2 separate regions of the Homo sapiens genome follow, and region 1 is linked to region 2. The links come from fine-mapping of genetic effects on gene expression. Tissue or cell type: unexposed skin. Region 2 holds a variant in brackets; the other region holds the start of a gene. All regions are shown on one strand. Distances are from middle to middle.

What was found. PIP is the estimated chance that this variant, and not a neighbour inherited with it, causes the effect.
Region 1: MOXD1 starts here. The variant in region 2 is fine-mapped to the expression of MOXD1 in unexposed skin (GTEx, PIP 0.97).

What each region holds. Positions count from the first base shown.
Region 1 is chr6:132,398,985-132,403,379 of GRCh38, reverse strand. It overlaps MOXD1 (monooxygenase DBH like 1), which reads left to right and starts at 1,905. Exons shown (of 12, transcript NM_015529.4): 1 at 1,905-2,217. The coding sequence starts at 1,954. RefSeq lists silencers at 1,692-1,831, 1,852-2,021, 2,152-2,201.
Region 2 is chr6:132,328,310-132,332,704 of GRCh38, reverse strand. MOXD1 (monooxygenase DBH like 1) reads left to right here. Exons shown (of 12, transcript NM_015529.4): 5 at 4,111-4,290. Among named protein-coding and RNA genes, the nearest start is that of MOXD1, 71 kb to the left of the region's middle. The variant T/C (reference allele first, on the strand shown) is at 1,827.

The sequences.
Region 1 (4,395 bases), 71 kb before region 2:
ATTTGGGGTTTATATAACGAACCCCAGGAAGCAGATGTAGCAATGTGCTTGTTCCAGGTTCCTCCACACTAGGAATAAAAGTAGGGTCACAAAACAGAAAGTTTGCCTTTAGTCACTCTGCAGTAATTTAACTTCCCTGAAATCCCTGCCCAGGATAGTGAGAGGATAGTGAGTGTGTCCCACCCGGTGCCATGAGCCACTCCTCTGGGACTCCATTCCCCCTATTTTGTTCCTCTTTCTCTCCATATCCCCCTTCCTTTCTTCATGGCTGAAGCCACGTCCCTGGTATGGTGCTTGTAAAAACCCAATTCTAAGGTTGCCACCCTTACATTGCTGTATGGCTGTTACTGCCCTTGACATTTGCCCAGTGGGTCCTGGTGGAGGTGAGGCACCAGCTACTTATATTTCATAGTCTCCATGCCCAGTTCTTGTAAGGCTTTGCAGGCTCTTTTATTTCTCATTTTATTTTGCGGTTCCAACATCACTCTTCTCTGATGCTGGCCTATTGCCATTGGCCAGCCCTGCGGACCTTGATCCAATCTCTCCTTGGGAAAAGTCCCTTCCCAGGCAAGTCCCTGAGCACTTTGGTAAGCAGATCCACCTACAGGTCACCTTCCAGACATGATCAAATATTCCCGTATCCTTAGAAGAATATAAATTAGATGCATGACGGTAACTTTGGAAAAGTTATGGGAAAAGATAGGCAGGGGGAAAAACAGGCTGAAATACGAGGTGAGGAGAGAGAATGAGGAGTGTAGGGTGGCTAGTGTGGAGCTTGCTCTTCTTACCCATATTTCTCATCTGATATTCTCTCTTATTTGTTTTTCTATTTTGCATTGTTTGTATTTTTATAAAGACAAAATTTCGAACTTTTTTGGAAACTTGGCAGATCATAAATAAAGGAATAAATAAGCAAGGTAAATTTTAGTGGCCATATTTGTATTTAGCATTCTAAAGACAGGAGTGGTCAAAGGTAGAGGCAAAACCAAAACAAAACAAACTTTTGACAAACATGGTTATGGCCAGAACTTGGAATAGCAAGAAAAGAGAATGTTAAATTAAAATATAACTCTCAAATGACAATTCACCCCTTACCTTCTCTGCTGATGGCAAAGTAGTTTGGCTGACTTTGTCCCATCAACGCCAAACCAAACCAAACAAAAACTAGGTGAAGGCAAGCGTCAGGGCTCCAACTCCTGCCGTGAGGAGCAAGCTCTGCGGCCCCGCAGGGTGGGAGGGTGAGAGAAATTCTCGAGGTGGGGGGCTGGGGAAAGTGAAGTGTGTCCCTCCATTGCAATAGGGACGTCACTGGGAACAAAGGCTCTGGAAAGTCGACAGCAACGGATACGGAGACGTGAAGGTTACCCTGGACGGGCCTTTCTGTGCATCGCACCCCAGACTACCCCCTTTGCTCACTCAATTCCTCCTCTCCAGGCTAAACTTGCTCTCTGCCGTCAATGTCCATTCTTTCCCTGGTAACCTCTCGCCCACGTCCCGCAGAGCCCACGCTCTTCCCGCTCTAGGATTCTCTTGCCCTCCTCCTTTTCCCTCTGCCTCTGGCCTCCTTTTCTCCTCTCTCGGCGTCTGCCTCCTCCTGCCTCCTCCTCCCTTTCTTTCCGGGAAGCCCCTCGCTTTCCTTCCCACCGAGCCCCGACCTCGGGGACCAAGTCAGGGGTCGGGGGCTGCAAGTGGATCCGCTGGAAGGGCCGGGCAGGGTGAGAGTTGGCGGGGCTGGGACCCGACGGGACGGAACGGGACGGGACCGGACGGGACGCGGCGCGCCCTGCAGGCGGCCCGGGGCGGGGAGAGCGGGTCCTGCCCCTCCCGGGCGGGCGCGCGGCCGGCCCGAGGGGCGGTCCCTGGGCTCCCGCTCGCCGCCGCTGCCGCTCCTCGTTCTGCTCCTCACTCCCCAGCGGCTGGAGGCCGGTACCGGCGGGCAGGAGGCGCCCGAGGATGTGCTGCTGGCCGCTGCTCCTGCTGTGGGGGCTGCTCCCCGGGACGGCGGCGGGGGGCTCGGGCCGAACCTATCCGCACCGGACCCTCCTGGACTCGGAGGGCAAGTACTGGCTGGGCTGGAGCCAGCGGGGCAGCCAGATCGCCTTCCGCCTCCAGGTGCGCACTGCAGGCTACGTGGGCTTCGGCTTCTCGCCCACCGGGGCCATGGCGTCCGCCGACATCGTCGTGGGCGGGGTGGCCCACGGGCGGCCCTACCTCCAGGTAAGCGCGTCTCCTCCCGGAGCCCGCCCGGCCGAGCCCGGTCCCGTCCGGACCCCAGAGAGGGCGCAGGTGCGGGTCGTCCCCGGGGCCCGCAGCTCTCTCTCACCTGGCGCAGCCCCGCGCCCCCGGCCACGCTCACTCTCGCCTCCGCGGGCAGCGCCTGCTCTCCCGGAGCCCCAGAAGGCGCGCGGTAGGGAAGCCGAGCACGGATGACCCCAGGCAGGTTTCCTTCTTTGAACACTTTCCTGTCCCCAGCGCCCCACTTAATAGACGCCCCCCCGCCTACACACCTGCAATACACCCCGCTTCATCCCTGATGGGAAGGGAGAAGGACCTAGGCTTTGGCTTTGGGGACCTAATGGGACAGCTCTCAGAGGAGGGAAGGGACAGAGCGCTTTAGTACGTCGCGGACTTGCTGTCTAGGAGTGGAAATCTCAGAACTTCCCAAATCGTGGCTATTTGGGAGCCTCCAGGCGCGGGGCTGATGTCAGCTACACCATTCTCCAGAAGAATGAAGGGCCCCTAAGAATCGCTTAGGGACTTTCCTATTCCGAGAGCTGTTCAGGAAGCCACATTTAGAGACCAAAATCGAAGGTCCCCAGGCAAAATATCCTATGAAGTGACAAAACTTTGGCTTACTTTAATAACCAATAAAGTTAATTTGACCGCTGCTGATTTACTTTGAAGGAGCCTAAGTAACCACCTTGCCTGTTCATGGGTGCTTTACTAAATAGAAAGAAAAAAAAAAAGGAAGAAGAAGATTGTGAGATGACCAGAATGATTAGGTGGCTAGGTTTCCTGGACATCCTTGCTTGATCGTGACCAACGTTTGGATGGCGGTGAACGTACACGCTTTGTTATTATAAAAATTCATCCGAACATACTGCCCTTTGCTAAAAGTCTTGATCCAGATGAAAACTCCGAATTGTTCTGGCATTGCATTAAGGCTTTGATAGTATTTAAATCAGTGTTCTCCGTGGATTTAGAGTGCGCTTCTTAGTAATTTTATCCCCAGGTTCTTTTCGACTGAAATATGCCATCAAACTTGAACGCTGATTCTGGCACTGAGCTGTTAACTCTGGAAGGAAATAAAGTGACAACAATAAAAAGTTCAAAACCACTCTATTATCTATTTTTTCATAAATTAATCGTTTCTTCCCCCAAATAAGTAACTTTACAACTCCAATAAAATAAAGTTTTATGAGGATTGCATTCTGCTGAAGTCACTGATGTATAAATATTCTCCTCCTGCAGCATCTCAGACATTAACTTTATGAACCAAGTATTTGACCACAAATGCAGGCCTCACTAGGGGAATGACTCATTCTCCTGTAATATAAAGTAGACAATACCTTATTTAAATACCTATTTAACGTTTTTTAAAAAAGAAATTTTACCGTTTAGGGAGAGGAGTATAGTATGCCCCTTAACTATCCTTGCATGTTCTACAAAAGGGAGCATAACTCTTACTATGCTAATATTATAAAATGGGACATACTTTGAATGTTAACTCCATATTATTTTCCCTCAAAGAGTAGCATTTCTAGAAAGCCCAGCCAATTGTATGTCAAATGAAAAGCCGTGAGTAGAATTCTGATTCAACATGCCATAATAGGCCCACCACAAAGATAAACTTGGTTAAACTACAGTGTTTTCACCCTGTTTGTGGTTCTTCATAGAGATTGCATAGGACTTAGTTAAGTACTCTTTAGATTGATTTTGAAACATAGAAATTTTCTTAAAGTAATTAGTGAATACACATCACTATGAGATAAATTATGACTGGCTGCATTCTCAATACATTTAATGAGCAATAAATAGGACTTCCCGTCCATTTTTATTCCTAAGGAAATAAAATCATTTTTACATGTAAAGGATGATCGTTTTCTTACTTGGCTGACATATTTTACCTTCCATTTCCATAAACATTCTACTCATTTTAGGACATATAAAATGCATTAAAATTATGCTATTCAATTAAATGGAAAGACAGTTAACTTAAAATCTGTTTAATAAGATGAAATACACCAAATAATATAAATGAAATAAATGTATCAATTTCAGTTTTATTATTCAGGCTGAATGATTCCATTCTCCAACGCTCGAAATTCAGTCTCCTCTCTAGAAACTATTTATTTAAGGTTCTTCATACACTAGTGTGAGAAGAGTATTTTCAGC
Region 2 (4,395 bases):
AGCATGGCGTGAAGCATTGTGGGAAATCCTATCCTGTGCTAAGCATTTGAGCCAATGGCCCTGTCCTGCACTGATCAAAGTACTCCCATTTCCTCAAGTTGTACCCTCCACTAAACAAGTTATGTCCATCCTTAAGGAACATTCTTGGTGTCTCACTTAATATCCCCATGGTGGTCTGAAAATTTCCTCTCTAGAAATTATTCTTCTATTTTTCAGGAGTTTGATAGTCAGGTAATTTTTTCTCCCATATTATCAGTTTCTTAATTTATATTTATCCTTACATGTCATTTCCAAGCACTTCTTTTTCTTTCTTTTTTTCCCTGTCTTTGCTCACATCCTTTCTATTTTGCCAAGGGCTTGCTTCTTCCAAGCCTTTTTATCCTCTCCTCCCGTGATCAGTACCCAAGTTTGCAGCAAGGTTCCTTGTTGTTTTATGGGTTGGTGTTTTTGCTTAGGAAATCCTCATGTTTTAGGCTGCACCCTCAATCTGTAATCTGAAGGTCAGATTACAGTTTAATTCTTCTTGAAGCCCTCATCAAGTTTCAAAGAGAAGCCTTGTTATTTGCCCTTTGTAAGAAGGAACACCTTGAAAGGCCATGGGTCTGTCTTCTCATCCTAGAGGCCAAGGGGCACTGGGACTGGAGTGGCAGGGAGGCCATGAGCCCCCTCCCCAGGTGTAAGACTCCCAGTCTGGCACTGCACCTCTGAGGGCATCTGCATGTGGTGGTCCCTGCTAGTGGCTTCCAGAAGTACCTTCTGGCATTGGCTCCTGAGGTCATCACCCTTGTTGATGACAGCTGTCGGCAACTTGCCTTACTGAAGCCTTTCATCCTCCCTCCCACCGGCAGCAACTTCCAGGGTCCTTGATGCATCTCCAACACGCTTCCTACAATAATGTGTAGCCGTAGGAAAGTACAGACTTTGGGGTCACACTAGCCTGGTTTAAAATCCCATCACCCTTTCCCAGCTGTGGTACTTTGGGCTTGTTGTCTAATCTCTGAGTTTCAGTAAATCTGTAAGATAAGGATTATAACATCTTTCTTATAGATTTGTTGTAAATATTAAATGAAATACATAGAATGATTCATATGTGGCTAGTAGATAGTAGGTCTAAATAAAAGACAGATGTTATTATTATTCCAGGGATAAATTGGTAGCTTTGCAGTTTGGTGTTAGTTTTAGCACTTCCTATGAAGACAAAAAAAAAAGCACTTGCTCTTAAAAGTTTCTTTCAAGCTGTTTATTTGAAGCTCCCCAAAGTCAAGCACCACCCAGCATCACACACCCTTCACTCCCTCTTCCTCTACTTCAATGAAGGCCACTAGTTTCTGAAACTGTCGTGACAGTAACCAACTCTCCTTTGCCCTAATGGCTTCTTCCCAAGATCTACCTTACAGAGCTCAGTACAACCTTAAGGTTCTGCCTGAATTTATGAGGTATTTAGCAAAAATCTCACATGTGCCTGAATATTTTACTGTTGACATCTTAGCAGTGCCCTGTCCCCCTTGGAGGACCGAGGAACCCAAAAACGTCAAGTCTCAGACAGAAGCTCAAACTAGACATAAAAATGAAATTCTTATAGAAATTCTGGGTTTTACTTCTGTGCAATCATTGTTACTATGCAACCATGCTTGAACGATAACTACCCTTTTCAAGCAAAATAGAAAAGTTTCTGCCTTCAGGCCACACGACCTTTTAGAGACAAAACAAGTGCAAACAAAACCGTGTGCAATGTTTTTTCCATGAATGTGATGTTGAAAATGTACCTGAGGCTTAGGTGTGGCATGACTCGCTATGTAACACAGAAGAAAACTGGATTTAAAAAC[T/C]GGAATTTCTTGGCTGCCCATTCAGACACGACCCACTACATACCATTTCCCCCCTTGCTTAGATTTCCCTACAGAAAAGAGAAAAACTGTGGAGAAAATGGAAAACAAAGCCATAGGAGAAAAGAGCTGAAAACACTTCATGTAAATGTGCATGCTGAAAGTAGAGAGCAAGCAAGGATTTTAAAATGCGGTGCCTGAATTTGAGTAGTTAGGACTAAACACAGAAGTGTTGATGAACTCTAAGGCTAAACTCTTGGATATTTAGCAACACGCCAGGGCTACTTTATCAGCTGAACAAAGATTCCAAGAACTCTGAGGGGAAAGAAAAAAGAACCCTGTAACTCAGCGGTCTCCAGCCTTTTTGGTAACAGGGAACTGGTTTCATGGAAGACAGTTTTTCCACGGACTGGAGGATGGGGGAGATGGTTTTGAGATGAAACTGTTCCACCTCAGATCATCAGGCATTAGTTAGAATCTCATAAAGAGCACGCAGCCTAGATCTCTCACATGCACAGTTAGTTCATAATAAGATTCGCACTCCTATGAGAACCTAATGCCACTGCTGATCTGACAGGAGGTGGATCTCAGGAGGTAATGTGAGTGTTGGGGAGCAGCCATAAATACAGATGAAGCTTTGCTCACTTGCCCACTGCTCACCTCCTGCTGTGCGGCCTAGTTCCTAACAGGCCACGGACCAGTACTGGATTGGGGACCCCTGCTCTAACTGATGCAACACCTACAGCCCACCTACACCAAGTACAAGGCTCCATTTGGTCTGCATATAGAATCTCTGGGATGCTAGGGTGTGCTTCACTCATTCTGAGTTGATTCCTAGGTTCTTGGACTAAAGTGGGCAAGTGTTATGAAGGGAACTAACAGAGCAAACAGTGGAAGGACCACATTCATGTGGATCACGCTTTCCACATTAGGACCAATTTCACTGCCCATTCTACTTGTTTCTAGTTTTCCTCTTTTAATTTGAGCAGTGTCACAAGCGCACATAGCTAACAATGTTTTTTTTCTCTTCCAAATTCTAATAATAAAATTGTTATTGGCTTTTGATCTTAATCATTAAAATAAAAATAAAATGTGCAAGGAAACTTGCAGTAAGTTTCCTTGTTGTTTCATGGGTGGATTTTTTTTCTTAGGAAATCCTCATATTTTAGGCTATACCCTCAATTTGTAATCTGGAGGTCAGATTACAATTTAATTCTTCTTGAATTTCATTGATGATAAAATCACCAGTAAAAATGATTGAGCCCTAGCCTTCTTCTCAGCACCATGCATTTATAGAGATAAATGAGATCTCACCTCTCACCACTGGTAGGGATGGGTAAAGATAACATTTTGAGGTGGAAGAGAGGGAGACTAAGAGCGTTTGTGCCCACAGCCTTGACTTCTTTTTTTCTATGTGAAAAAAAAATGCTATAAAGACACATGCACATGTATGTTTATTCCGGCACTGTTCACAATAGCAAAGACTTGGAACAAACCCAAATGTCCATCAGTGATAGACTGGATTAAGAAAATGTGGCACATATACACCATGGAATACTATGCAGCCATAAAAACGGATGAGTTCGTGTTCGTGTCCTTTGTAGGGACATGGATGAAGCTGGAAACCAACATTCTCAGCAAACTATCGCCAAGGACAGAAAACCAAACACCGCATGTTCTCACTCATAGGTGGGAATTGAACAATGAGAACACTTGGACACAGGGTGGAGAACATCACACACCAGGGCCTGTCGTGGGGTGGGGAGAGTGGGGAGGGATAGCATTAGGAGATATACCTCATGTAAATGACGAGTTAATGGGTGCAGCAAACCAACATGGCACATGTATACATATGTAACAAACCTCCACGTTGTGCACATGTACCCTAGAACTTAAAGTATAATAATAAAAATTTAAAAAAAAGTGAGAGGCAGGAGGAGGAAGAGCAAACCTGGAAAAAAGCAAGCAATTTTCAAAACAATTGCTCTGCAGAATGGGCAAAGGACAGGACAGTGAATTAACAACCAAAAAAAAAGCCGATTAGTAAAGTCCTGTTTCTTGGATTAAATGGTTATCTCATCTTTGTTGTTGCCGTTGTCATCATCATATCTTTACCATTGTCACTGTCTCCAGAACAAATTAGACTTGAACTACACAACCTTGACATAATTGAGAAGAATATCCCTTTGAGAAACTGACAGTAATTTATGCTAGTTTCACGTTTGTTGTGGGATGTTGTAGGGTGGTCTTATTTATTGTGTCCTCCCTCTCATTTATGTTCGTGTAGGTTGAGCCAGTGATACAGAGAGGCCATGAGAGTCTGGTGCACCACATCCTGCTCTATCAGTGCAGCAACAACTTTAACGACAGCGTTCTGGAGTCCGGCCACGAGTGCTATCACCCCAACATGCCCGATGCATTCCTCACCTGTGAAACTGTGATTTTTGCCTGGGCTATTGGTGGAGAGGTGGGGCTAATGATTACTGAGATGTAACACAATTAACTGATCATATTTCCCGCCACAAATATGATTCTAATTAATACTTAGAAGTAAAGCTTTAACGCTACTTTT